Linked DNA regions of Homo sapiens: region 1 is linked to region 2. The links come from fine-mapping of genetic effects on gene expression. A gene starts in region 2. The other region holds a variant in brackets. All regions are shown on one strand. Distances are between the middles of the regions. Region 1 overlaps ENTPD1-AS1 (ENTPD1 antisense RNA 1). Region 2 holds the start of ENTPD1-AS1 (ENTPD1 antisense RNA 1).

Evidence for each region.
Region 1: its variant is fine-mapped to the expression of ENTPD1-AS1 in Th2 cells (Schmiedel 2018, PIP 0.95).

The regions. Positions count from the first base shown.
Region 1 is chr10:95,886,325-95,902,060 of GRCh38, reverse strand. All of the region lies in intron 2 of ENTPD1-AS1 (ENTPD1 antisense RNA 1), which reads left to right. Among named protein-coding and RNA genes, the nearest start is that of CC2D2B, 14 kb to the left of the region's middle. RefSeq lists a silencer at 5,682-5,882. The variant C/TATTATTATTATTATC (reference allele first, on the strand shown) is at 8,146.
Region 2 is chr10:96,082,215-96,097,950 of GRCh38, reverse strand. It overlaps ENTPD1-AS1 (ENTPD1 antisense RNA 1), which reads left to right and starts at 7,716. Exons shown (of 6, transcript NR_038444.1): 1 at 7,716-7,969; 2 at 8,644-8,685. RefSeq lists enhancers at 7,567-7,616, 7,627-7,996.

The sequences.
Region 1 (15,736 bases), 200 kb after region 2:
AGCAAGCAGCTGAGTTTTCCTTAAACCCAGCTTCTTTCCTGGCAAGAAGAATGTGGCTTAAAGAAATTTATACTGTCACCAATTATTTGGAGTTGAACAAAGTATTTACCTCCCCAATTTTAGCAACTGTATATTCTTGGTAGTACCTGCTTTTGATACATTTTTAAAAGTGTGTGGCTTATAGAGCTTTTATGTTAAGTTGCTCTGTAATTGGATCTTGATTCTCTGCATAAATCTGACTTTTCATATTATGAATAGTTGCAAAATAATCTGAGGAATTTTTATGTTCCTCAGATTAAATTTAGACCCTGATATTTACCAGTGTTGCCCAGTAAAACACTATTTTGCTTGCTTCTCAATTCACTTTTATCTTAATGAAAAGCAAGTGAGATTCAAATATAGCCATACTATTGACCTATAAATCAATCTATAGATCAGTTTTCTTGATCTATAGATTTATAGAGCAGTAGTATACCTATTTTGTGGGAAGGTCTGTCAAATTTAATATTTTGTTATGCACAGCTTACATTGACCTTTGTTTTAGTAGACAGTAACTAGTTATAAGTCGCATAAACTTAATATATACTTCAGTTAACTGATGTTTCTATAAAACCTGCATTTTTCTTCTTTTTTTTTTTAAATTATACTTTTTAAGTTCTGGGATACATGTGCACAATGTGCAGGTTTGTTACATAGGTATACATGTGCCATGTTAGTTTGCTACACCCATCAACTCGTCACTTACATTAGGTATTTCTCCTAATGCTATCCCTCCTCCAGCCCCCACCCCCCCACAGGCCCCGGTGTGTGATGTTCCCCTTCCTGTGTCCATGTGTTCTCATTGTTCAACTCTCACTTACGAGTGAGAACATGCCATGTTTGGTTTTCTCGTCTTGTGTTACTTTGCTGAGAATGATGAAAACCTGCATTTTAATAACACTACAGATAGCAGATATCGTGGCAGATTAAATACATATTTTTAAAAGTGCAAAATAAGACTATCCTGGATTCCTTTCAATGTGAATCTAACCATTTACAGCTTTTAAATGAACTGTGTGCATACTCCTGCGTAATTATCTTCAGTACACTGATAACATACTTTTACTTTGCAAATTAGGAGTGGCCTCAAGGGGCAGTTAGGATTGGTGATATATAAAAGTTCTCTAGTATCAAGTCTTCCTCTAGATGGAACTCTTCTATCTAGGTAAGAGTTCTAGTTTCTTATCTTGCTCAGTAAGATGCCAGCCTTATTGTCTAATTGGCTTTAAGAAAAAATAGTGACTGCTTACCAAGTGCTAGATACTGTGGGTTTGCTCTTCATATCTGTGGGCCTCTAATTTGTATGGATCCATTCTTAAGCAATATAAAACACCAGCACATCAGATTCTTGTGAGAGAGTAGAATCTAGAATTGTCCTTCCTAACTTTTTCTCAGAAGTTTGGCTGAAAGAAGTATTATTGCAGAAGGTCATTTAAAGACTGTGCAGTCCATTCATCACTCCCTATGGATCAAGCTGGACCACTCAGACTTATGTACTTGGACTATATTACATTAATTACTTAAAGCATTAGTTTCAGTGAGTCATGCCAGGGTGATTTTGTCCACCAGGAGACATTTGACAATGTCTGGAGACATGTTTGATTGTCATAACTTGGAGGGTCTGGGGAGGGGGTGCTCTTGGCATTCAGTATGCAGAGGCCAGGGGTGCTGCTAAATGTCCCACGATGCACAGGACAGCCCCACAACAATGTTTCACCCCAAATATTAGTGCCCAGTTGAGAAACCCTGATTTAGATGGTCAAGGAGCCTAAGGAAAGGTACAAGACACAGAAAGAGGAACGAACTTAAGGTATTTGTTGGACTGTAAGGAGAGCTGCCGGACTGGAGAGTGTTTCCAGGTGGGATCTGTGGTGAAAGGTAAGACTCAATATATGGATAAGTCTGTGTGTATACGGCCTTAAAGAATCACAGTAGATTTGAAGTTTATCCTGTAATGACAGTAGCATTTACAGAAAGTTTCTGTTGGAAATAGAAAAAAAATGGAAAACATATGAGTATAGAAGAAAAACAATTGAAATTCCACTTTTAAAAGTGATATATTTTCCTTCTCCTTACCCCTTCAAAAATAAATCAGAATAACACTGTATGTAAAAGTTTTGTGATGTGATCTTTATGTAACATTTTGAGGATTTTTCCTTATTAAATAGTCTTTGTGGCCAGGCATGGTGGCTGGTGCCTGAAATCCAAGGACTTTGGGAGGCCAAGGTGGGAGGATCACTTGAGGCCAGAAGTTTAAGACCAGCCTGGGCAACAACATAGCAAGACCCTATCTCCAAAAAAAAAAAAAAAAAAAAAATTAATACCTGGGTAGGGTATTGCCTACCTGTAGTCCTAGCTACTTGGGAGGCTGAGGAAGGAGGATCCCTTGAGCCCAAGAGTTCAAGAATACAGTGAGCTATGATAGCACCATTACACCACATCCTAGGTGACAGAGTGAGACCTCATTTAAAAAAATAATAATCAATTAGCCAGGCGTGGTGGTGGGCACCTGTAGTCCCAGCTACTCGGGAGGCTGAGGCAGGAGAATGGCGTGAACCCGGGAGGCGGAGCTTGCAGTGAGCCAAGGTTGCGCCACTGCACTCCAGCCTGGGTGACAGAGTGAGACTCTGTCTCATAATAATAATAATAATAATAATAATAATAATTTTGAGAAATGTGATTTTTAACAGCAACATGATATTCCAATGTGTTTCTATTATACATAATGTTGCAGTGAATGTTACGCCCAAACTCTTTTTCCCCAATATTTCTGATACTTGCCTTAGGATAATTTCCAAGACATGAAATCACTGAGGCAAAGGATGTGAATATGTTTAGGCAATTTGTACAGCTCTAGTTAGTTAAAAGCTTGTCAATATTCTTATGCTATGACATTTTCACCAAGTCTTTTTATTGTCTTATGTTTTTTCTCTTCCTTGTTCTATGTTTAATGTTAACATTTTATCTGTATTTTATAACCTTATTTTTCATTTTTCATCATAGACAGTTAATCAGAGACTTACTCCAACCCAGAAGTTTATACCAAAAGACTTGATTAGCGCAATAAAAGCACTAAATGAGGAGCTCGGATTAATTATTGATTTAACATACACCACAAGATATTATGAAGTTAAGGTAAAGTTGCAAATGTATATTGTTATCATGGGTAGGTCTTAAAATAGAAAGTTTGTTTTTTGTTTTGTTGTTATTTTGTTTTTTTAAGACAGAGTCCTGCTCTGTCACTCGGGTTGGAGTGCAGTGGCGTGATCTCGGCCCACTGCAACCTCCGCCTCCTGGGTTCAAGTGATTCTCCTGCCTCAGCCTTCTGAGTAGCTGGGATTACAGGCGCCCGCCACCACGCCTGGCTAATTTTTGTATTTTTAGTAGAGGTGGGGTTTCGCCATGTTGGCCAGGCTAGTCTCAAACTCCTGACCTCAGATGATCTGCCCACCTCGGCGTCCCAAAGTGCTAGGATTACAGGCGTGAGGCACCACATCTGGCAAGAATTTTTTTTTTAATACTGCACTTGGAAAGTGAATTAAGATATTCTCTTGGTTATTTTAATATTAATTTCAGAATTGCCCATGAATAATCTCTTAGCAATGTTTTTAGTCCTTCATATACTCATACAATATTCTTTTTCTAAAAACCATTGGTTGTGCAAAGAGGAAAAAAAACACTGAACTTATCCTTTTAAAAAAGCAAAATAACTAGAAGGAAATATAGTTGCAAATAGGAAAAGTGAAAAAGGGACAGAGAAACAAAAGGAGGGAAAGACAGCAATATGATGAAAACGGAAGAAATAAAAACGTAAGTGAGATGGGTATTACAACAGTAATTTTTGAACTTTAACAGAGAAATCTTTCAATTAAATCTTGCTCCGAAGCCCGTTATATAAAGCAGATATGGTAAGTGGGGAGTTGGGTTGGTTGAAGCAGGGGATTGAGGATCCAGACTTAGTCCACTTGACATGATAATTATTCTCCTTCCTTCACTTTCCACCCACAGACTAAGGGGCAGAAGGACACTTCGAAGAGCAGAATTTTAAAACCCTGCTCTAGAGGAAAATAATTTTTAGACCTTATGAGAAAACTAAAAATTGCAGTGACAAGATATGAAAGCATCTGTCTTAGCAGTTCACATGAAAAAGTGGAATTTTACTAGATGCAGTATGATGCCAGTGATTAAAAAGCTAATGCACTTTTAAAGTCTGATATTTTAAAGTTCCAGATTTAAGTCAAAGGAAATAGTAGTTTTACTATGCATGTGGATGGTTCTACCATTTTTCAAGTGTTGAGTTCAATGGTAATACTAAATTTTCTTTCTTTTTTTTTTTTTTGAGATGGAGTCTCGCACTGTCGCCCCAGTTGGAGTGTAATGGTGCGATCTCGGCTCACTGCAAGCTCCGCCTCCCGGGTTCATGCCATTCTCCTGCCTCAGCCTCCTGAGTAGCTGGAACTACAGGTGCCCGCCACCACGCCCGGCTAATTTTTTGTATGTATTTTTAGTAGAGACAAGGTTTCACTGTGTTAGCCAGGATGGTCTCGATCTTCTGACCTCGTTATCCGCCCGCCTCAGCCTCCCAAAGTGCTGAGATTGCAGGCGTGAGCCACCGCACCCGGCCTATAATACTACATTTTAAATCACTAAAAATTCAAGATGGATAATGACTGAGTCTCATGTCTCCTATAATATAGTAGTAAGACAGTTAAATTCTTTCAAGACTTCAGTTTTTGACCTCCACAAAGACAGCAATTAGAAATTGATTTTCTGAGGTCCCCTTTGGCTCCAAAATGCAATGATTAAAGTTTTCATTGACCCTGCTTACTGCCTTTATAGAAATAATTCCCAATATGTGGAAAGGGAATGCAGAGAATCTTAAATGGGACATAATCACTACAGTTGTTTGTATTTGGAGTATATAGAATTAGAGCCAATGACAACAAGGTGGATTTTTTTTTTATTGTTTAGTTTAATACTTTTACAACCTTAATTTTAAGGGATAAGAGACCATTTTCAGCTTAGGTGTTGATAGTGCTAGAGTTTCAAAGTGTGGAATATGTGATAAAGGATTTTTATGTAAAATTAGACATAGTATTAAAACCAGAGCTAGACAGTAAAGAAAGCAGTAAAAAATAGATTTTACTCAGGAACTATTGGAATAAAGTAAGGGACTTGAGTATAGAACTGTGCTCAGTTCTGAAAAGAAGAAGAATAAGGGGGGATTCATACCAAGGAACAGAGTGGGGTCGGTGGATGGAAAATTCCTAGGAGGAAACATCAAGGTAAGAGGTAATTCTGGTTAAACAGACCTAACAGGATTCTTGCTGAAGGCAGGCCAGGATGATCAGACAACACCTCGGGGGCAATGGAGGATGAGGAATTTGATCAGATATTGAAGGAGGTCAGATATGAGGATGGGATTCTTACAAAACTGACTTAACAGGATTCTTGCTCTTGAGGACAAGGCCCAAGTACCGGGCCTAGTAGAGAATGGGCTCAAAGGAACCTGACTAAATTTTGCTTAAGGAGAGTCTTTGTCAGTAGTCATCATACTTAAATTGTTTATTTTTGCCAAGTACCTCTTACCAAAGCTTTATAAGCATTTAATTGTGCTTCTCATTATGAGAACAGATAAAAGAAAAGGCTATTAAAAGAAAAGGAATTGTTATTAGCCAATTCATAAAGTAGGAGAGAGTTGTTAGACCCAAGATTTCAGAGTAAGAAAAAAAAAATGACGCCACTGGGACTTCTGCTTTCAGATAAGAGGAAGTAACAGGGACCAGATTAACCCTCCCACCTGAAACAACAAAAAAAAAAGTGAAGAAAATATATGAAACAACAATTTCCAAGAAGTTGGATATCAGGCAATGAAGGACAGTGATCTCTGAGAAATGTTCCAGCTTGCTGCCTTGAGAGAGTTTCCAGGTCATGGTGCAGAAAGTGGGAATCATGATGGAGCAAGTCACTGCCAAGTTAAGGGGACAGAACTGAGACGCCTGGGAAACCAAGGCAGCTAGCACTGGACAAGAGAGTACTGCCCAGGGAGAGTATTCTAGGGTACTCTTTACCAACCCTCAGATACTTTCCTGGAATGCAGAAGGTTTCCCTGCATTTCAGGAAAGTACCTGAGGCTGGAGAAAGAGCTACTCTAGAAGATTAGAAGGAACAGTACTTGGAGCTCACTTAGGGCTGGCAATAGGGACTTTTCCCACCAGCCATTATGAGGTTATGGAAAACCTCATAATTCACAGGATACTGGGTAGCATTCAGAAGAGCCTTGTCTCAATAGTGGGAAATAATGAGCCCTAGACTAAACACTACTCTGATCTATGGAAAACCTCATAATAGTAAGGAATAATGAGCTCTAGACTAAACACTACTCTGATCTATGGAAAACCTCATAATTCACAGGATGCTGGGTAGAGTTCAGAAGGGCCTTGTCTCAATAGTGGGGAATGAACTCTAGACTAAACACTACTCTGATCTTACCTAATAAGTCTTAACAGCGAGACCTGAAAGGATCAAACTGTTTCCAAGTAACTGCTTCCTGAAACAAAGCTTAAGAGTATTTGTAGGAATCCAAAAAAGATACAGTCCTATGAGTTTGGGTTACTTTTCTCCTTCTAATTTTTCTGTTTCTGTTCTGAAAATGTGGGAGGTTGCATGGGATAATGAAAAAAGTATTAGATTAGAAATCAGGAGAGCTGAGTTTTTGTCTAGTTCTGCTACCGACTTACCATGTGACCATGGTCAAGGTTTTCTTTTTTCTTGTCACAAGTGACCCCAGTACATGGAGGGATTTGGATCAAACAAATTCTGAAAAATTCTTAAACTCTAAAATGAAATTGTCTTCAGGCCTTCTATATTTGCTCAAAAGAATCAGGAACACTAAAATGCAGAAAAGATTACTTGATTCTACTTAGTTTTACTAATTGTTTTATCAAGCATAAGGGATTCTAATTTGTTACAAAAATTTAAATCATTTAAAATCAATTTGTGAATTTCTCTTAAAGTTAGTCATTTACTGGATAAACCAAATTATATATGATGTTTATTCATTTTAATATTTTTTATTTCAATAGTTTTTGGGGAACAGGTGATGTTTGCTTACGTGCAGAAGTTCTTTAGTGGTGATTTCTGAGATATTGGTGCACCCATCACCCAAGCAGTGTACACTGTACCCAATGTATACTCTTTTATCCCTCATCCCCTCTCCCAGCCTTTCCCCCAAGTCCCCAAAGTTCATTGTATCATTCTTATGCCTTTGTGTCCTCATAGCTTAGCTCCCACTTATGAGTGAGAACATACGATATTTGGTTTTCCATTCCTGAGTTACTTCACTTAGAATAATGGTCTCCAGTTCCATCCAGGTTGCTACAAATGCCATTATTTCATTCCTTGTTGTGGCTGAGTGGTATTCCCTCGTGGGTGTGTGTGTGTGTGTGTGTTTGTGTGTGTGTGTATACACACCACATTTTCTTTATCCACTCGTTGATTGATGGGCATTTGTACTGGTTCCATATTTTTGCAGATTTTGCAATTGTGAATTGTGCTGCTGTAAACAAGTGTGTGTAAGTATCTTTTTTGTATAATGACTTCTTTTCCTCTGGGTAGATACCCAGTAGTGGGATTGCTGGATCAAATGTAGTTCTACTTTTAGTTCTTTAAGGAATCTCCACACTGTTTTTCATAGTGGTTGTACTAATTTACATTCCCACCAGCAGTGTAAAAGTGTTCCCTTTTCACCACATCCACACCAACATCTATTTATTTTTATTTTTTTGATTATGGCTATTCTTGCAGGAGTAAGGTAGTATTGCATTGTGGTTTTGATTTGCATTTCCCTGATAATCAGTGATGTTGAGCATTTTTTCATATGTTCGTTGGCCATTTGTATATCTTATTTTGAGAATTGTCTATTCATGTCCTTAGCCCACTTTTTGATGGGACTGTTTGTTTTTTTCTTGCTAATTTGTTTGAGTTCCTGTAGATTCTGGATATTAGTCCTTCATTGGATGCATAGATTGCAAAGATTTTCTCCCACTCTGTGGGTTGTCTGTTTACTCTGCTGATTACTATTATTATTATTATTATTATTATTAT[C/TATTATTATTATTATC]TTGCTGTGCAGAAGCTTTTTAGCTTAATTAAGTCCCATCTATTTATCTTTGTTACATTTGCTTTTGGGTTCTTGGTTATGAAGTCTTCGCCTAAGCCGATGTCTAAAAGGGTTTTTCCAATGTTATCTTCTAGAATTTTTATGGTTTTAGGTCTTAGATTTAAGTCTTTTATCCATCTTGAATTGATTTTTGTATAAGGTAAGAGATGAGGATCCAGTTTCATTCTTCTACATGTGGCTTGCCAATTATCCCAGCACAATTTGTTGAATAGGGTATCCTTTCCCCACTTTATGTTTTTGTTTGCTTTGTTGAAGATCAGTTGGCTGTAAGTGTTTGACTTTATTTCTGGGTTCTCTCTTCTATTCCATTGGTCTATGTGCCTCTTTTTATACCAGTGCCATGCTGTTTTGGTTATTATGGCCTTATAGTATGAAGTCGGGTAATGTGATATCTCCAGATTTGTTCTTTTTGCTTAGTCTTGCTTTGACTATGTGGGCTCTTTTTTGGTTCCATATGCATCTTAGGATTGTTTTTTCTAGTTCTGTGAAGAATGACAGTGGTATTTTGATGGGAATGCATTGAATTTACAGATTGCTTTTGGCGGTATGGTCATTTTCACAATATTGAATCTACCCATCCATGTACATGGGATGTGTTTCCATTTGTTTGTTGGTTAGGTATTTAACATACCATATAATTCACCCACTTCAAGCATACAATTTAATGATTTTTATTAAATTTACCTATTTATGCATCTATTACTGTACATCAGTTTTAAAACACTTCTATCTCCCTAATAAGAACCTTCATGTTCATGAATTGTTCATTCCTATTCCCCCACCCCAGGCAACAATTAATGTAGTTTCTGTCTCTAGAGATTTGTCTCATGTGGACATTTCATATAAATGGAATCATACAATATTGGTCTCTTGTGTTTGGCTTCTTTCGTTTAGCATAATGTTTTTGAGGTTTGTCCATGATATACAGCATATATCAGTAGTTCATTTGTGTTTTTGCTGAATAATAGTACATTATATGGATATACCACATTTTGTCTACCTATTCATCAGTAGGTGGTGTGAAAGGAAAATTAATCTTGGGGCCCCAAAATCACTAAGCTAAAGGGAAAAGTCAGGCCTGGACTGCTTAGGGCAAACCGGCCTCCCATTGTATTCAAAGTCACCCCTCTACTCACTGAGATAAATGCATATCTGATTGCTTCCTTTGGAGAGGCTAATCAGAAACTCAAAAGAATGCAGCCATTTGTCTCTTATCTACTTATGACCTGGAAGCCCCCTCCCAGCTTTGAGTTGTCCCACCTTTCCAGACAAAACCAGTGTTCATCTTATATATTTGATTTATGTCTCATGTCTCCCTAAAATGTATAAAACCAAACTGTGCTCTATCTTGGCCACATGTCATCAGGACCTCCTGAGGCTGTCTCACAGGCACATGTCCTCAACTTTGGCAAAATAAACTTTCTAAATTAACTGAGACCTATCTCAGATATTCAGGGTTCACAGTGGACATTTCAGTTGTTTCCCATTTTTGGCTACTGTTAATAAGGTTGCTAAGAACATTCATATGGAGGTCTTTGTATGGATATATGTTTTCATTTCTCATGGATTGATATCTAGGAGTGAAATTTCTGGGTCATATGGTAAATTTATATTTAACTTTTAAACAAATTGCCCAACTATTTAAGGTGAGTTTAGCCTTGCCAATATTTGTTATTGTCTATCATTTTTATTTATTATTTTAGTGGGTTTGAAAGGGTATGTCATTGTGCTTTTAATTTGCATTTCCCTATTTATAATTTGCATTTTGTATTCCTGAGTGGCTTTCTGCCATTATCCCATTTAGATTCATTCTTTACAATAAAGCTTAAGATTATTGGCAATAGAATTTAATTATCACTATAAGAATAGATCACTACCCCATTTCCCTTTTTATTAGTCTTTGCCTTATTCTTAGAAAAATTTTCCTTTTTTTTTTAAAGAAAAAAATCTTTCATTTCTACAGAATGTGATTCCTTTTTAGCTCTAGGATCTCACTGTCCCTATCACTTTCCTCTCTGGCATCTTAAATCTCCCTTGCCGCTTTCCTCTTACTTTCAAATATACCTAGAAGTATTCTGTTGGTTTCTATTCTCTTGTATGAACTACTATTCCACTTTCTTGTTGTGCCTATTGTCAAACATTTGAAAACACCTTGGCTGTGATCACCACCTCCATTTCTTTACTGTCCCATTCTCTTCTTAAATGTGTGGTTTGTTTTCACCACTTAATGAAATTGCCTTCTCAGAAATCACCAACAATCTAGCCAAATCCTGCAGCCTTTTCTTTGCAGCATCTGGCATCTACACATACAGATTGAGAATGCCAAATCCAAATATCTGAAAATTGAAATGCTCCGAAATATGGAACTTTTTGAGCACCAAACTGACACTCAAAGGAAATGATCATTAGAGCATTTCAGATTTCAGATTTTGGGATTATGGATGCTCAACTGGCATAGTGCAAATATGCCAAAATCCACAAAAATCTGAAATCTGAAACACTTCTGGGCATTATGGATGAGGGATCCTCAACCTGTACTTATATTTTTTTATTTTGAACACAGTAATTATCCAGGTTTGCCTCTTTTCTGATAGCTCTCAATCACTTTGGTTGTCTCCTATTCTTCTCACTGTAGAGGTTTTATAAAACTCTTTCTTTGGCTTTGCTTTTATTCCCATTCTCTTGTCACTTTGGCTGTCATGTCTGCCAGATGACCCCTAAATGTTTCGCATACCTCAGTTATGTACAAAATCCCCACTTCTCTAAGGAACACTTTCTTTTCAAATCACAGGTCTTTGGGATAGTTTATATAGCTCATAAAAAGAATGAATGTTTTATGTATATTTGTTTCTTTGACACCATATCTGTTTTGTTTGCATTATGATCTTTCAGTGTTTCATAAGCTAAATAAAATCAAACCAGAAACTGAATTTTGCCTGAAAGCTAGGGATTTCCTTCTCAGTATTTATTCAGGTATTCTGGGAGGAAAATTTATTGGTTCCTAATTTCTTATAAGAGCTGCTTGATAAAATGTTCTCTCCTTATAGTCTTCTTCCCTTTGCAACCTTTTACTTGTGCTTGTTTTTAGTCCCTACCTAAAGAAATGTTCTTCCCAATAGATGACATCTGAAAATTAACAATACCAGAAAATTAACTCTGGGGATCTTTTACTAGAATTCATATAAGTCATTTTCTGAGCTCATGTCAACATTAATATCCATCTAAGGTTGTGATTGCTATTTATAGATACTAATATATAATTTTTCCCTGAGAAGATTGCTTTTATAACATGCCTGGATGTCAGTTTTCTACTTTATGAAACTAAGCAACACTGGAACAATTCAAAAATCTTAGTGTCTTTTAGCCTAAACTCAGTGGCATATTCCTAAAGAATACTTTCCATTTAATTTTATCTTCTCTAATGAAGATAATGGTATTCATGCAACATCTTTTATATGCTGTATGGTACTCAAGCAACATCTTTTATATGCTGCTTAGCAACTCTGTTAAGCACCTCTATGTGCCAGGCATACAGCTCAACACTAGACCTACAGAGGTCAGAAGGAGCCCTTGCCTTCAAGGAGATAGGTAAGTAAACCAGCAAATAGACACTTTATCCATTCCACAAGTGTTTATGGAATACCTACTGTGTCCTGGCACTCTGCTTAGCTCTGAGGATTCAGCAATGAATAAGACAGGTGTGAAAATAAGTAATTCAAAATCTAAGCTGTTGGAACTCCAAACTATTTTGATCCTTAAAGAAATGTGATTATGGGGCCTGAGTCACGTTACAAGCAGCTGTAACCTGGGAAGCTGTAATCTTTGTTTCTATGATTATAGATTAACCTTCCTCCTTGCTTACATTGTTGTACAAAATGTTACAAATGACTAAAGGGCTCCAGGAAAGACCCCTTCCCTGTTACTGTTGATTTTTATTATAGATTAACTTCCCTTTTAGTTTCTCACCCAAAGGTTTCATGGCTATCACACCGTGTTAAGATGGAGTGTTAAATACCTCTTTTAAATCAGAAAGGAAATGAAAACCAACTGTAAAGAAAACAAGCCATACAGAAAAGAAACTCATAAACTAGCGTTCTAGAAAATGTTATAAACCTACTAAACTTCTTTGTTTTCTGCCTATATATGCAATAATTTAACTTTGAACTTTGGAACACTGACTCTATTTCTCTGGAGTCTGTGTCTCCCAAATGGCTATTCCCAGCTTTTTACTTGAATAATCTCGACTGGATTTTGATCCTTTTGATTATTTCAGGTTAACCCAGACCAGGCCATGAAGATTGTAAATCTGTGTGGGCTTGCAAGGCCTTATATGATGGGATTTTGCACTTGCTGTTTCCTCTGCCTAGAATGCTTTATCTTTGCATGGCTCGGTTCAAATGTCACCTTCTCAGAGGGCCAGCCTTCCATGACTGTCTTATTTAGTGCTGTTCCTCTCTTCTAGTCACTGTTGATTGTATGATCTTGATTTCCTTCAAAGCACTTATTACTATCAGAGATGATGTGTGTACTTGCTTTTGGTCTGTCCCTCTTGAGGACAGGGACTTTGATTGATTTGGTATCTCTAAGTGTTTAAACGGTATCTGGAATATTTTGGGCACCTAAAACACATTTGATGATGGGATGAAACAACGAATGTGTGGATGGTGCTGGAGAAAGGCATTCAACAAATAAGGCAATTTCAGATAGTGAAAGTATGGGTACTCAGAGAAGGTTAATGGAGAAGTGGAGTCAGTATTCTGATGTCTGAGCAGAAATGTAAAGGAAGAGTTGGCTAGGCAAAGAAAACAATGTAAGCTGGATCACAGAGGTGTGAAAGCATGGCGCATGGGGGATTCACAAGTAGTGAGAATGCCTAGATTATAGGTTCACCTAGGGGCAGATAGCAAGGGTGAGAGCTCCAAGGAGCTGACTTGTCTTACGAAGATTTGAATTGCAACCTAAAGGCAAAATGTAGTCACAGAGGCATTTTATGTAGAAGTCACATAATAAGTTATGTATCTTAGATCATTCTGGCACCAGAGAGTAAGATAGATTCGAATAGATAGGTTACATGTAGGAAAAAAGGTATTTTCCCTGCTCTCACACAGCTACTCAACACTTCTGACTCCAGATGTGTGGGGATTTTCCCACAAACATCAAGCAGTTCTGCTATGTACACCATCTGGGTGTCCGCTAATTCAATTCTGTTGACACTATCTACCTGGAGATAGCATCAGATCCCATAGGTTGAGGACTTAGTCTTACAAAACTGTCCCCCACTTCAGATGCCAATCACAAGCCCCAGGTTGCAGTCTGTACTTCTGACAACTATAAATCAGAGTTCCCACAACCCCTCCTAAATCATTCTATTAATTTCCTAGAGTGACTCACAGTATGCGGGGAAACACTTATGTTTACCCATTCATTAAAAAGGACATTGCAAAGGATACAGAGGAACAACCAGACAAGAGATGCACAGGGCAAAGTACGCGGGAAGGGGAGCCAGGCTTCCATGCCCTTTCCAGGCAAGCCACCTTCTAGGAACCTCCGCATGTTCAGCTATCCAGAAGTTGTCCAAACCCAAGCCTTTTGTATTTTTATGGAAGCTTCGTTAGGTAGGATGATGGATTAAATTACTGGCCATTGGCAAGGAGATTAACCTACAGCCTTTCTCCCCTCCCCAAAGGTTGGGGGATAGAGCTGAAAGTCCCAACACTTTAATCCTGCCTTGGTTTTTCTGAGGACCAGTCCCCGTGCTGAGGCTATCAGGGGCCCCAATCACCAGTCATCTCAGTAGTATACAAAAGGCACTCTTACCACTCTGGAGATTCCAAGGGTTTTGGGAGTTGTATGTCAGGAAATGGACTATGACCAAATATATGTTTCACAGTATCGAAGAATGGAAGTAGGTTGGGGGCACAGAGATTAGTGTGGGAACAATTACAGAAATTAAAGGAAAAATTAATTAGGGGCCTAATCTAAGGCAGTGGCAGAAGAGATGGTGAGGAAAACAGTTGAAGATTTTTAAAGAGAGACTTATTAAAATAATGGCAAAGAGATGTAGGTGAGTGAGTTGGGGGGAAGAATGGGTTGATTCCCAGGTTTCTCACTTGGTACCAATCACCCAGGTTGATGCATTAAGTAGAGAAGAGATAATTAGCTTCACCAGCTCTCAAAGTCATTGAACTGCTGGGGCACAGGTGCCTGCAGTTGTGTACGTAGTCCTTTGGCTAAAATCTGAAGGATAACCCTCGTAATGCTTTAATGAAACACAGCTTTGCTCATCTTGGCAACCTGTGCTGACTGCTGTCTATAAAACTTCTAGCTGTACCAGTTTGGGTGTAAGGATATGGTGTTTGTCTTCTAAGAAATCTTAGCTACTGGCCAGGCACAGTAGCTCACACCTGTGATCCCAGCACTTTGGCTGAGCCAGGAGGATCACTTGAGCCCAGGAGTTCAAGACCAGCTTGGGCAACATAGGAAGATCCCACCTCTACAAAAAATAAAAATTTAGCTGGGTGTGGTAGTGTGTACCTTGGTCCAAGCTACTTGGGAGGTTGAGGCAGGAGGATCACTTGAGCCTGGGAGGTTGAGTGTGCAGTGAGCCATGGTGGTGCCACTGTACTCCAGCCTGGGTGACAGAGTGAGACTCTGTCTCTCAAAAAAAGAAAAAGTCCTGGGTACCTATTAGAGAACAAAGTTATTCCCTCAACAGGCAATTCAGATGCTTATTTTCTTTTGTTCCTAGAATAGAGTTTTGAACTTAATTATACATTAGAATTTATTATGACATTTTTTTAACCTGATGTCTGGTCCCATCCAAGAGCAATTACATCAAAATTAAAAAGTGATCATTTCATGTACCCATGTCTGAGAACCTTCTAGATTCACTGCCCTCATGAATCAGAGTTCTATTTTACATCCCTACTTTTTGGGTTGATACTTGGACCAGAGAGGAAATTGGAAATTTGAGTTTGTGATCAGTGCCAATGGGTTGATTTTCCATTGCTGCTATTACAAATTATCGCAAATTTAGTGGCTTAAAAAACCTTACAGTTCCGTAGGTTAGAAGTCCAACGAGGGTCTCAGTGGGCTAAAATCAGGTGTCACCAGGCCTGCATTCTTTCCTGGAGGCCCTACAGGGGATTTGTTTCCTTGCCTTTTGCAGCTTCTAGATGCCACCCACACTTCATGGATATTGGCCCCCTTCCTTCATCTTCAAAGTCAACAACTTTGCATCTCTGTGTAACTTTCACCCATAGTCACATCTCCACAGCCAGAAAGGTTCTCCAGTTTTAAGAGCCTATGTAATTAGATTGTAAATATGGACCAGCTTTGACTAGCCATTTTAGGTCAAATACTACTTCGGTTCTTCATAAATATTTGTTGGACTGAATTGAAAATATGAGGTTTAAGCGTTTGTCTAGTTTAAAAGGATGACACTGGTCTTGGGGACCCACAAATGACTACTTTTGTTGTTTTCCCACTGTCTAGCTTTAAGTGATCTGTCTTTTCTGGGAGTCATTTTTTT
Region 2 (15,736 bases):
GCTTGGGTGGCTGGCTCACTAGAGCCAGGGTAGCGTTGCTTGCAGGGCTCCTCACAGCCAGCTTGCAGGGCTCCAGGCATGTACACATTGTGGGTCTGAAGAATGGGCGAAGAGAGCAGTGACCTGGGAAGGCACAAATTCATGCCATTCTCCTGGCTATGCCTCTGCCACCCAAGTCTAGAAATTGACACAGTGGCCACTAGAGAAATCTGCCTCCTTTAGGTACCTCATACCGGAGAAAACTACACAGGCCAAGCTATAGAAAATAAAAGCAATAGAGAATAGAGGCCAAGCAATAGAGAATAAAAGCCACCAGGACCAGGAAGGAAAACTTCCTCCTCCTGCAATGTCTCTCCAGCTCCCACTTCTTAAGAAGATTAACATCATGCCCACTGGCTAAGGAAAAATATTTCAAGGACCCAGGTCCATGTTTACTGATCAGGCAAAAAGGTAAATTTGGGGCTGAGAGGCAATCAGTTGATAACTGGCATAGCTGCTTGATAAATACTGCCTAACAATGAGTCATCTTATAGTAGAAGGTATATCTCAATAAAACATTTAGAAAAGCAATGAGAAGTAGAACATCTGGATGCCTAATGCTTTTACAATATGTCACTCATGGTAGGAGAAAAATACTAGTACACAGGGGGTCTTCCTCAGGCTAGGTAGCATTTAATCTACCAGAAGGGAACCAAATATGTTCTTAGGGGCATCGTTGAAGACTTCTTAAAACCATTTACAGAGCCTGTGCAGTTATCTGTGGTTTGTCCTAGGTGAAGGAGGAAGTGATTTCTAAAGGAGGAGGGAAATGATTTCTAAAGAACCAATATGTGGCATTCAAATTAATACCATGAGTTCTTTTGCCTCACTGGACACACATTTGAATAATACAAATGATGTGAGATTTCAGTGATAGATATTTACAGTGACAACTTTTACATCTTCATCAGGGTAATTGCTTCTGTCCTCTAGATCATCCACATTTTTATGTTCACACAATCTCTAGGTAACTCATCTTTAAACATTGCTTCGAAGACTTCCACAAACTGGATATGGAAACTAGTATGTGATCCTTTGAATAGGTACCACCAATAGCTATACTACTATAGTATTTCTCATGATGACCTTGGTTAAATCTTAATCACATTTATTCAGATGATTGATATTTTATGCCATATTTTTTGCCCAAATTAGCCAGAACCATCAAAATCCATAAGGAAGTATTTTAAGGCTGTAGATGTATTAAAGTAGGCTACCTGCTATTTTTGTTTTTGTTTTACTTTCGTATTTTAACAGAATAAAGGATTATTGCTTTTTCATGTCCCGGTCCAATATGGGTTAACAGACATAATGAAAGGGTTCTACTCCATGCAGTCATTCAGGGACCTAAGTTTTTAATATCTAGTAGCTCCACCTTCCCCAAGAAGCAGAGTCCTCTGAATTCTCCACACCTGGCCTTCAGAAAAGGAAAGTAGAAAAATAAGTCAATATCCATATTTAACCACTACAATCATGACACCCATCACTTCTCACATTCCACTGGTGACATCTAGTCATATAATCTTATCTAAGTACAAGGGGATCTGGGAAACATAGTCTAGCTGCGTGCCCAAAAATAACAGGAGGAAACTGATATTGGTTGTCACTACTGATTTCTATCACAGTTGATAGAAAGTTGTATTTTTCAAGTGTTTATTTCTAATAGCCACCTCCTTTTAGCATGAATAATGTCATGGCTGTACAACTGTTTTAGCAGGTTCACATTCTGTATTAGTTGCAAGTTGCCTTTGTTTGCAAGTATCAGAGACCTAATGCAAAATAGCTCAAATAAAAAGGAGGATTGGCCGGAGTGGTGGCTCACGCCTGTAATCCCAGCACTTTGAGAGGCCAAGGTGGGCAGATCACCTGAGGTCAGGAGTTCAAGACCAGCCTGGCCAACATGGCAAAACCCTGTCTCTATTAAAAATACAAAAATTAGCTGGGCATGGTGGCACGTGCCTATAATCCCAGCTACTCAGGAGGCTAAGGCAGGAGAATCACTTGAACCTGGGAGGAGGAGGTTGCAGGGAGCCAAGATCATGCCACTGCACTCCAGCCTGGGTGACAGAGTGAGACTCTGTCCCAAAAAAAAAAAAAAAAAAAAGAGGACTTATTCGCTCACATAATAATCAAACCTCAGATAGGAGAGGGATAGAGCAAATCTTAGGGACAACCAGAATAACAATGGGATTCTCTCTCTTTCTGATCTATTATTTTTTCCCTGCATATATTTATTTATTTAAAATATAGGAGATATGCATTCAGATACAAACATGTTTCTGAAGGTGGGAAATTGGTGCAGTCACATTGGAAAATAGTCTAGTAGTTTCTGAAACGGTTAAACATACCTTTACCACAAGACCCAGTAATTTTACTCCTAGGAATATACCCAAGAGAAATGAAAACATATGTCCACAAAAAAATGTGTACATGAATATTTATAGAAGCATTATTCACAATAGCTAAAAGGAAGAAACAACCCAAATGTCCATCAACTGATGAATGAATAAACACCCGGTGGTATATCCATTAATGGAATATCTGGCCACAGAAAGAAATGGAGTACTGATACATGCTACAGTATGGATGAATCTTGAAAACATTATGCTAAGTGAAAGAAGCTAGACCCAAAAGACCCAAATTATTGTATGATTCCACTTACATGAAAAGTCCAAAGTAGGCAAATCTATACAGACAGAAAGATTATGGGTAGCAGATATGGGGGATTGGAGAGATACCTAAAGGTCGTGGGGTTTTTCAGGACAATGGAAATGTTTTAGACTTGATTGTGGTGATAGATGCATAATTCTGTGAATGCTAATAGCCACTGAATTTTACACTTTAAGTGGGCAAATTGTATAATGTGAATTATGTCAATAAAATCATTTAAAAGAACATGTAGACATGGACGACAGGTAAAATGAGCATGGCTGTGTTCCAATAACATTTTATTTATAAAAACAGGCAACTCACCAATTGGCCATCATTTTCTGACCCTTGTTATAGAGTAATAAAAACTAATTTTTTAGCTGGGCACTGGCTTACCAGAAAATAAAATACCACCTTTTCCACATGTCTTGCAGAGGATTGTGTGTAACATTTGGGAACTATCCTGAAATGAAACAATTGTGCTTTTCTTTGAATCCCCTAGTCTTTCCTGTTCACTGGAATGGCTACAGCTCTAACAGCCATCTTAGATCATGAAATTACCTTGGAAAATGGACACCACAGATAGTGGAGCAACAAGATAGGAGGAGCCTGGAATCCTCACCCCATGAATAACTGTACGAACTCTAAATTGATTTCATCTAGATGTCTTAAAAGAAAAAAAAATTAATTTATGTCATGTTTAAATAAACTTATTTTGAAAATTTCTATTACTTCCTCATAGCTGAACATAATTCCAACTATTATACCCCTTAAGGAATTAAAAAAACAGCTATACCTCCTGGAAGGATCAAGTGGATGCTAAAGGAAGCTCAAATCTATGTCTGTCTTTTTTTTGTTTTGTTTTGTTTAACAGCAATTCATTCTTAATATACTGGCCTTTTAAGCTGGAGTCTTACAACTACTTGAGTTCATATTTGTAAAAAAGATGTAAGAGGATATATTCTCTGATTAGCCAATCCTGTGTTAACTTTAAAAAAAATCAAATTTCATAAATAGAAGCAGTAACATATCCCTTATCAGAATAGTTCCACTGTTTACTAAGTCCCTGTAGCTAAGTACAAGCCCCAGGGCTTAGCCCAAGTCCTGATCACTATGTACACAGAGTCTGTTGTGGGTTTCCTCATGAGTTCAGTAGTGTGAACATTAGCGTGTGACATCCTCTGCTCTGCAGAACACAAAAATAACAGGGTCCTCTGGGTATCCAACTTTCCTTGACAAGATTAAAGTAATGTCTAAAGAGCTCTAAAAGTGTCACAAACGATCTATAGACATCATATTTACATTTGTTCATAAAGATACAGGGCTGCAAAGTCACCATAGCATAACTTCTCCTTAAGAGTGTGAGACATAAACACAGACCTAATGTTCTCATGACCGCCCCTACCCAAAAAAGGTATCTCTGTGTTGCAGAGTCACACTCTGTGATGGATTGAACGTTTGTGTGCCCGTCAAATTCATATGGTAAAGCCCTAACCCCCGCTGTGGCTATATCTGGAGATGGGGCCTCTAAGGAAGTAATTAAGATGAAATGAGGTCATAAGGGTGGGTCCCTGATCTGACAGAATTAGTGTCTTATAAGAAGATACACCAGAAAGTTCTCTCTCTTTCTCTTCCACGCCTCTTCATCTCGAGTATGTACCGAGGAAAGGCCATATGAGGATATTGTGAGAAGGCAGCCAGCTGCAACCCAGGAAGAATGCCCCTCACCAGAAAGCAAATTGGTCAAAACCCTGGTTTTGAACTTTGAGCTTCCAGGACAGTGAGAAAATAAATCTCTGTGTGTAAGCCACTCAGTCTATGGTATTTTGGCTGTGTCAACAGACTAATACACACTCCAAAAAAAGAGTGTGTAGAAATTTTTGTTTCAGCGTCATTTTCAAATTGTCCTCTGCTAAAATCTACTTTAATCCCGGCATGGTCATAAGCTGGTTTTACACTCTAGACCTGCTTGAAACTTAAACTTGGCTCACTCTCACGGGTGATTTTTAGGTTCGTTGGATGCTGCAACTCCTATGACACACAGAATGATCAAACATGGATTCCTGGGACTTGGGACTTTTGGTACTAAAGCAGGGAAAGTCCAAGGGCACTGGACAAGTTGGTCACTCTAGATAGGCAATACATTCTGTTCCTCCAGCTATTGCTCCATCTACAGCTATGGCTTCTCTAACAATCCATACCATACAGATTCTCTCCATACACAAGAGTCAAAAAGGTCTCAGGCCAACTTTCTCTTTTTTTCACGTGGCCCACATCTGCTGCACGAGAAACACTCAGGCATCATTTGCCTTGACAAACTACGGCAGTGACTACAGATCCCAACATAGCAACTTTCCTTCACTCCTATGCCAAAATTCTCACTGGCCCATCTCTCCTACCCCTGGGATTTCCCAGATGTGAGTCACGATACTACTGTACCTCTCAAAACCCAGGAAATGCATGTCAAGTTCTCTGAGTATTGCTATTGAAGCCCCCTTCACTAGACTTGAAGGTGACTGGGGAAGCATATAACAATGGCTCTCCCCAAAACTTCTCCTCATAAACTCATCTCTTTCAACATCTTCTTTTAACCCATGAAACTGGTGAAAGGTTCCAATAGCGGCAAAACCAGTTCTTGGACTGTGGCTGCCAATACAGGGAGCAAAACTGATCAAGGGCTCTAGATGCTTGCTGCACTCTGAATTCCCTGGCCACATTTTCACCCATGGGCTGCTCCAGCCGGTGACTGAGAGCAGCACAGATAATAAGGCAGGCTGGCTCCTGAAAGAAGGACTCCTCTGACAGGTGATTTTGGCTTGAGGATTTCCAATAGCCTTTCTAAATCTTGCTTAGACTGTTTGGCAGTCCAGGAAACTTCCACCACCCTTCCCTCTCTCTCTGCTTTACTCAATTTCAGACTTGCAGCCTCTCCCAGTCTTGCTTGGCTCCCGCCCATTCTCTCTCACAGGTGTTTCCTCTAATAAAATTGTTGCACATTTAATCCCATCATAACAACTTCTCATCAGAGCCAGACTAATGTAAAGACATTTCTTTGGAAAACATGCATCTTGTCAGCACCTCACTTTGGCGTTTCATAGTTGTTGCTTTATAATGCTGCAGGCAAAACTTCCAGTTTATAGTTATACTACTAACCACAGGATGAATGAATGACATGGTAAGATAAAAAAACAGGAAAAATGATGGGATTTTACTTTACATTTCTTGTTGTTCAACCCCTCCATTTTTGTTAAAATATATGTCTAATTTGAATGCGCATCAAGATGAATTTTTAGTAAGACTTATCACTGTGGGTGCTGAGTATGTGAGCAGGAACATCATAGATGCTAATTTACCTTTTAGTAGGCAACCAGGCCTGTGCCAGGACTTGGATAAGAAGGCTGTTACATGCTACCCTGGAGTTCCAAAGTAACCCCAATATCACCATCTGTCTTTGTTCCTCCACATTTTCTTCTTCCCGTGATCCCTTCTCATTTTTCCTTTCTATCTTCTTTTACTTGTTTTGTCACTGCTTTAGAAGTCACTAATAAGCAATAGTGGGAAGTAGAGTATGTGAATAAAGAATGAAGCTTTCTTTGGCAGTCTGAAATAAATTGCTTAAAACTGTACCCCAAAGCAGCCAGAATAAAAATAGCTTTTTATATTTGTTCTCCACCATTTCAAGTATCCAAACGCCCCACATGACTTGACCCCTGCAACTTTGTTTTAGGGAAGACTTTTGGTGGTAGCATACTCTCATACGAAAGTGTGTGAAAAACATCAATTTGCTTTTTTACTTTTCCTGTGAGGATTATAGAACCAAAACAAAATATCGAAAATTTTGAGAATACACTGACTCACAAAAATCCAATGCTTTTCTAGTCAAACAGGATTTCTCTACGTGATTTGTATCAAGGACGGTCATTTATCAAAATGTGACAACATGCCTTTGCCGTCATTATAACAGCAGGCAATTAAAAATGTTTTTACCATAGCCAGTTTGCTTATTTTTCTATTTTAAAAGGGTTTTATAGCAGATATGCAAAAGAGAAAGCAGAGAGAAAAAAATAAAATCACTCTCTATTCAAACACTATCACTGTTAATTTTGATGTATTTCTTGTGTTTTTCTAGGCATAATTTGTTTTTACAAAAACATAGCCTTAGTGGCTAGTCCCACTTTATTATGTGAGTACTGGTCAATGCAGAAAGAAGACTAAACAAACTACAGATTGGTTTTCAGTCATATTCTAAAGAAACAGAAGCCAAACAAACACTTGGTCTGGTGGAAAGTCCAAGATTATGGTCCTTGGCCCTCTGTTAAGGCCAGCTAGAGTATCTGGTGATGGTGAGAGGCCTCCAACTGTCTTAGTCCTGGATTTAAAAGGGCCTAAACGGAGCTAAAATGTTCCCCAGAGCCTAGCAATCATTGACAGTTTCCTCAGGTAACCAGCGCTGCAGACGGAGAATGCTGCAAAGGCAAGGTGTCAGAAACCAATTGAAATCCGAGGTTCAGCCAAGGGGACCCAGGCACACACGTGGGCCTTGTGTTCACCATAAAGAGCATACTGGCTACAAGTTGGCCCCTCTCTGGGCAACAGAGTGCCTAACTTAAAGGGGCTTACGAGGATGCCATGCGCCAACAGCTCTGGTTTTACAAAATGGAGTCACCAGGGAGAACGCGGTGTCTGGGTTAGACCACGTTCACCAAGTACCAGCTATACGATCTCGGACAAATTTACTTGCCCTCTCTTAACCTTAGTTTCCCCATATATAAAATGTAAGTGATACATTTCTGACTGCTGGGATTGTAAGGAAGGGATTAAATGGCTTGCCAATGAGGTGTTCAGCACAATGCCTGCCTAACACGTAAAACGTGTTGGGGTTGGTTGGTTGTAAGACCCACAACCTCTCTCCCCACTCTACCCCCGCCCCGCCACCAGCAGCCCAGCTGCAGCCGCTTCCGGGAACCACTTCGCTTCGGTCTCCCACTGCCGAACGCGGATCCCTCCGCGTTGCGTCACTTCCGGGAGACTCTGGCCGCGGCGATTCAATATATCCGGAAGCAACTGTCATGGCTGCTGTCAGTGAGGGCCCGTAATGGAGATCGAGTCAAGGGTTGCCCAGGGACACTTAAGAGCCTTCGGCTTCAAGGAGGCCTCTCAAAGGACAAAGGATGAGACTGCCTGGCGGCAGAGTGCCCCCCACAATCGTAGGAACTGTGTCGCCGCGCTTCCCGTTAACTTGCCGCTAAGTTTTTCTAGAAAAGTCGCCCTTCTTGCCAGGGTGGGACCTCACTTCTGACCTAGCCCTTCTTTGTGTACCAAGTTTTTGTTTCCGTCATTTCCCGCAGCCCGGGAGCTCGGCGGGCGATACTGTGGTAGCCTGGGAGGAAGGGGCGGGCCGGATGCTGGAACCGAGAGAGGTGGGGCTCGTCGAGGAGTCACGGGCGGCCGAGGCTGGAGTCTCCTAAATGCAACCTTGAGCTGTTCCACCCTTTGGTGCTTGGTCTGTTAGCTCGAGGTGCTCCTCACCGTGGAGGCGTTTAGAGCTGGTCATAAGGCTCTTACCTGCTGACCCAACCACCCTCAACCACAGCTTGCCCTGCTCCAGATAGACTTTGATCCTAGAAAATATCTAAGATGGGTGTAGTGCAGTATGTTATTGTTTTAAGTCTCAAACATAAGCAAACTATTATTAAAAGTTTTAGAATTAATAGGCAGAGTTCACATATTGGGTCGTGTTATTGTTTTAAGGTTTAAATTTAGATAACATGTTAGTACTTGTTGAGATTTTAACAAAAGCATTAAAAAAATGAGAAAATAGATTAATCTTTAGAATATTTTAAGTTTGCTACTGCGCAGTGGTAACATGAAGACACCTCATAATAAGTCTTTGATTACCAGAAGCTTCTGAAAGTAAAATTATGGGTATATTAATGTGAGTTTTCCTCTCTGCAGGGTGTCCTATAGACTTTGTCATGGAGTGAAACAGAAACAAATGTGAGTTAATCATTAACATTTCCTAGTGGTTAAAATTACTTTTTAAGCGCTTAACTGTGTATTTTTTAGATTGAAGATTTCAAATGAAATTTTGATTTGACTGAAATATTTAATATGTGATGAGTTGATATTAAAATACAGAAGATTACTATTTTTATAGAAACAATAATGTAGAAACTAATATTTGAAGCAGGTTTACTCCACATACTGTGTTATAATTTAAATTTTCACTTAAACTCTCAAAATCAGAAGAGCTGACCTAGTAAGGCTTAAACCTCTAAAACTTGTGGTTTTAACAAGGCTTAATATACGTAGTTATAATAGTTTTTAAAAAAATTGTTATCAAGTTCCTCAGGTGATTCTGATATAGTATTTTAAAGAAAGCAAAGAGAAATGATCTGTTTATACATTTTAAATATTTTGTTCCTTATTTATGTATTGAGACTGTGCTTATAAATGCATTCACACGCATTGAAGTACATAATTTGATCGTCATGCCAGCCTGGAATCTTGCTTTTTGTATGGTTTCTTGCAGGTAGGTCTATTGGGTTCTTGGCATAGTACCTGGACAAAACATTGTTAAGGTGGAAATTTTCATTGTATTTATCACTTCAAACACTTGACCAGTTTATTTAGTTTTCAAGCGCTTTAGACAACTATATGTGGGCTTGACTTAGTGTATAATAAATGTAAAGTTTGATCTCAAGTAGTTGACATTTATGGAGTATTTACCATATGCCAATCTTTGTGATAATTGCTAGACATATTTTATTTAATGCTTACAGCAGTACTGTGAGTTAGGTTTGTTAAATCCCTGTTTTAATAGATGGAGAAACTGAGGCAAGGACGGATTAAGTTACAAATCCGTCTTTGTAACTTAGAGCCATCTTCTTACCTACTTGTTTTGTATGACACCCTTTTCCTCCATATAACTGAACACTGGTAGAAGAGTGAATGACTGTAGAAAACAGACCTGGACTCTATTCTACCTGTCCAGCTTTGTAAACTAGGGCAAGTTGTGTGACCACTCTGAATTTCATTTTCCTCACCTATAATAAATGAAAACTTTGAACTATTATGTTTTATTGAATCTTGAATCATCAGAAATCCTTAAGGCTGGGTGTGGTGCTTCACGCCTGTAATCCCACCACTTTGGGAGGCCCAGATGGGAGGATTGCTTGAGGCCAGGAGTTTGAGACCAGCCTGGTCAGTCAGCATAGCGATATCCCATCTCTACCACAAAAAAAAAAAAAAAAATTCCTTAAAATGGTGCCTTTACCATCAAACCTGGGATTTTCTTCCAAGCCCCTAGTGCTCATTCTGAGTTTTGAAGTTTTGATGCACGGCAGTGCCAACTCCATCTCCATTGCCGTCTAGTCTGATTACATTGTAAGATGTGACTGATTTCAGAGATGTCAAAATGTAAAATAATGTGCATCTTGGAACTAATGAGCTCTTTTTCAACCCTGACTCTGTAACATCTGTGACTTTTTAACATTTTATTGCAGGATTAAGTATTTTTGAATGTAAATGATTCAAGATAACACATAGACTTCGTTTGATGACATCTGCAAAATAAATTTTTAAAAAATTTGGGCTTCATGATAATGGAAAAGTAGAAACTATGTTTGTCTTTATCACCTGTGAATCCCCCATATTGAGAACATGCCTGGCACATAGTGAGTGTTCAGTAATCATTTACTCAATGAAGTAAACAAGTCTTCATTTCTTTTTTCTTTGTTTGAGACAATCTCACTCTGTTGCTCATGCTGGAGTGCAGTGACGCTATCTTGGCTCACTGCAACCTCTGCCTCCAAGGCTCAAGTGATCCTCCCGCCTCAGCCTCCCAAGTAGCTAGGACTACAGGCACACACCACCGCACCAGTTAATTTTTGAATTTTTTTGTAGAGACAGGGTCTTACCATATTTCCCAGGCTGGTCTTGAACTTCTGGGCTCAAGCCATCTGCCTGCCTCAGCTTCCAAAGTTCTAGGATTACAGGCATCAGCCACTGTGCCCTGCCACGTCTTCATTTCATATTACAAATACAATATTAAAAAATTGTGTTTGACTTGAATTAGACATAAAATACACAGTCATGCATCGCTTAATGACAGGGATACATTCTGAGAAATGTGTTGGGTGATTTTGTTATTGTGCGTGTACTTACATAAATCTACATGGTATGGGCTACTACATATCTGTATGGTATGGCGTATTGCTCCTAGGTTACAAACCTGTATAGCATGTTACTGTACTGGATACCATAGGTGGTTGTAACACAATGGTATTTGCATATGTAAACATGTCTAGACATAGAAAAGGTACAGTAAAAATATTATAACTTTATGGGACCGTCAGTGAAATGTCATTATGTAGCACATGACTGCAATAGTATTAATAGTGTAAAACTATTTTGCACTGAAATTTTTTGCATTCAGAAGTTCACTGTTGTAAACTGTCTTTCTTTCCAAATATCTTTTCTTCTGCTGATTATTGCTGATTGTCATCAAGTATGGGGTATATTTTGTTCCTCGAAGAGTTATAGTAAAAATTGAAATGCTGGCTTATAGACTTTCCAACAAAGAATCTGATTTATTTTTAAAGTGGCCAAAGTATAGGAACATTATTTAATTTTTAGAAATCTTGATTGTAAAAAAAGTTTTAAAAATGTGATTTGATAGCTTATTTAATTTTTGTGAGTATTCTGGAGGTGATTAGGCATACTATCTTTCCTAGTATACAAATAATATTGAATATTTCTGAGTTATGAACAATAAAAATAAACTACAATTGAAATTATGTCATAATTGAAATTATGTCAGTGGGCAGAAAAGTGTTCCAAGTTTTTGGGTGGGCAAGTGTAAGAATAATGTTAACAGGAGAAATTATTCCAACCGTAATTATGGATGTCTAATAGTCTGTACTTTCGGTTAGAACCAGGAAGGTGGCACAGGAATAATTATAGAGTTGTAGACTGTTCTCTGTAGATAATCAGCTGAGTTTTGTGCTGTGGCCAGAAAAGCCAGTGTGTGAGGTATCATCAGGAAGGGATTTGGGAAAATTAACAAAAAAAATGTTACCCTCAAATAACACAGTGTTTTAACTAAACATGAGATACAAGAAATTATTTTATATTCATAATCCAGATGTTAAAAATCGTTTCAATTGTTAAATGTGATTATGGCTATAATTTTACTTACATAATTCTGTAAAGGGTATATGCCTGTATATTCAATTTTTAAAGACCAAATATAGGAGTAAAATCATTTACATAATTACAAAAATTCCTGCCACTAAAATAAAACTCTGTACCACTTGATAGCACTTCATTACTGAGTGAACATTGACCATGAACATCTTGGAATTTTCACTATCAATTTCCTTTTCTCAGAGTCCTTTTTTACAGAAAACACAAAGTTTTTATTCTTTAGTTATGCCTGTGCAGTAATGAGGAGGGAATAGTATTCACTTCTGTTAGTACTTACTTCCTTGCACAAACTTTGTAATGTATACTTTACTGAGTTCTCCAAACCCAAAGGAGAATAAGGCCAAGGGCCTATAATAAATTATTTTATGAGTCCAAAAAAGTAATTCATTTTATGATGTTTTCACAGAAGTTTATGCTTATTAATCAAAGATTTCAAGTTTAAAGAACTGAAGGAGAAGTGATATCATTAAATTTGGAGCAAATATGTTCTTTCAATAATTTTTTAAGTACCTAAGGATTGTTTTGTACTACCCTGAAAATTGTTTTCCTTTAAAGTTTTTATTATTTCCACACCGTTTTTCTCCATCTTTCTGTTTTCCTGTAAACGAATAACAGTAAACCCCCCACCCTAACAAAATGTGAATTCACCTAGGCTGAAATCATAAGATATATTCACTTTGTTTTCCCTACTTTTTCTACATGTTCAAGAATTTATATCAAATACAGATTAATTTGAAAATTTGACATTTGGAGATAATCTCAGTGACTAAAAAGAATAAAACAGGCATGGGACACTTGCAAGGAGGAACAGAAACAAAATTTTAAAACCCTCTCATTACTTAACCTACAGCAAAGATGAATTTATAAGCATCTCATTTAAACTCTAGGGTAAGTAAATTTTTAAAAAGTTTTTAGAGAATGAGGAATACAAAGGGATTTTGCTAATTTAAGACATCATCGTTTTTAGTTTAGTGTACTGGGTAAAGGATTTTCCAAGTTAACTAACAACTTTATTCTCCAAATCCTGAGTTTTTACTTTTGGGTGTCAGCCATGACTACTTCTCATCAGGAGTATTTAAAAATGTTATCCTACCAGTTGGTGAAAAAATATCACACCTCCTTTCTAATCTTTATTGGAAAATCTCCTTTTCTTTTCTTTTTTCTTTTCTGTTGAGGCCTGGTCTCGCTGTTGCCCAGGCTGGAGTGCAGTGGCGCAGTCTCTGCTCACTGTACCCTCTGCCTCCCAGATTCAAGCGATTCTCCTGCCTCAGCCTCCTGGGTAGAGGGGATTACAGGCACCCGTCACCACACCCAGCTAAGTTTTGTATTTTTTCAGTAGAGACAGAGTTTCACCTGGTCTCGAATTCCTGACTTCAAGTGATCCACCCCGCTCGGCCTCCCAAAGTGCTGGGATTACAGGCATGAGCCACCGTGCCCAGCCAGAAAAAAATCATTCTTTATAGTCAAAGCTTAAATGCTTCATGACCCATCTTCATAGGAGAGTATTCTTTTTATGCTCTGTTCCCTGATTTGGTGACTGTGAGAACTCTTATATAACATTTATGAAGTGCTTACACAGCATTAAGAGATAGGCATGAAAAGATGACTACATCTTGCCTCAGCCCTGCAAGTACCTATGGGAGAGTGACATTTAAATGTATACATGTAGCTAGGTGTGGTGGCTCATGCCTATAATCCTAGCACTTTGTGAGGCTGAGACAGGAGGATCGCTTGAGGCCAGGAGTTCAGACCACTGTGGGCAACATAGGGATCTCATCTCTACAAAAAATAAAAAAAAATTAGCCAGGTGTGGTGGTTTGCAACTGTAGTCCTGGCTGTTCAGGAGGCTGAGGTGGGAAGATCACTTGAGCTTAGGAGGTCAAGGCTTCAGTGAGCTGTGATTTTGCCACTGCATTCCAGCCTGGTGACAGAGTGAGACCTTGTCTCCAGTCGATCAATCAATCAATCAAAAAAAAAATACATAAAGTATGAGCCATACTGTGGTGGACGTATGTGTAGGGGTAGAGAGAGGACACAAATGATCCTTCGAAAGGGCTTCAGAGATGCCATGACATGTGAAATAGCCAGGCTTCTTTGAGAAGGCACTCTAAACAGTTTGATGGCTGTATTTCTCAGCAGGAGCAGTAGTAACATTTTGGATAGGTCAGGTTGCTGTATTGTCATTATACTCTCTTAAACATCGCAAGATATTTAGCAGCCTTGGGTCTGTGGTCTTTTCCCACCAGCTAGCATCAGTTGGATCTGGGGAGAGCAGCTGGCATCCTTCTTTAGATGTGCTTATACAATATGACTTTATTATTTTCTGAACTTCCTGTCCCTGCCATTCCCATTCATTTCATTTCATTCACTGAAGACTTTGGCACCTGGCTTATAGTTACCCTCTTCTCCCCAAGTCCCACCTTTATGACGGTCACTTCAAATTCCATGTGGTTAACTAAACCAATATCCTGGCTCTCAACTGCTTGACCTCAAATTTAGTGACCTTTACCTTTTCATGAAGCCACCCAGTCTCTGAATCTTATAATTATTTATGTCAGCAGCTACACCCTTAAAAACTTAAAAAACTCTTCTGCTCTTTGCCCATTTTTCTAGCTTTTTAGCTGAATGACTTCCAGTGCATCTGTACTTCAGCTTCAAGAACTCCAATCCCTTGGCTGTTCTCTCTCCCAGTCAGCTTCCATCACTTCAACCATTACACTCTTGCACCCTTTTCCCTCTGTTAGACCTACCGAGTAAAACACAACCCTAGGTCAGAAATTATAATAATAGCTAACATAAACTGAGTGCTTATTGTATTCCAGACACTCTTCTGAGTTTACCTGGTTTGTCTCCTTTAATATTCTCAATGGCGCTGTTATCTCCATTTTGTGCGTGAGGAAAGTAAAGCTCAATTTTCTGTCTACTGTAGTAGGGTATAAACCCTAGAAGTTTGCCCTTAGAAAATGTGCATTTAACCACTTATTTAGCCTGCGTTTCAAAACAGCTGTCTTCTCTGCTTCCCCACTTGGACTGCTGTACTGTTTTCAGGACAGAGTAGGTTTGGCTAGGTGGAGAGTGTTGAAAGCACTCATCTTAAACCTTGGCTATGTAACTAACCCTTTTGGTAGGCCTCTAGCCAAGCCAGAAAACAGATAAAGAGGGAAGTAACAGTGATTAGGTATTCAATGTCACCAGCTGCTTCTGGGTGTCTGTAGACAGAGGGAGAAGAAAAGCTAAAGAGAATAGGTATCAGTTTGGGGATTGAGTGTGATGTCACCTTTGCCTGATGACCTACTGAACATTAGAGACTGAACTGACTTAAAATTGGTAGAATAAGCATGAGAGAGTCCTCCATTTGTTTGTTTGTTGTTTTTAATTTTAGGTGAGTCTGAGTGATTATGTCATGTATATGTATGTCATGGCTGATGGGCTGAGGACCTCCATTGCCCTCTCCGAGGCTTGGCTCAGCTGGCCTGGAGAGATGTGCTAGGGAACATGCACCCTCTTGTTACCTTCCATCTCTATCTGTTTTGAGAAAACCACTCTAACTAGTCTTTGCTGTGGATTTCTCTCTCTAGATGTCCTTCCTTTTGTTCTGGATTTGTTGACGCTGACATTGTCACTTGAAGTGACAGGGTAAAGCTTTTGAGAGCTGATTGCTTCAGTTATTAGGTCACCTGTGGGACTCTCTAAGTACCGTCATGCATCACTTGACTGTGGTGATATGTTCTGAGAAATGTGTCATTAGGTGAATTCACCATCATGTTTATTTACACACACATAGGTGGTGTAGCCTACTACACACCTAGATTGTATGGTATAGCCTGTTACTCCTAAGCTA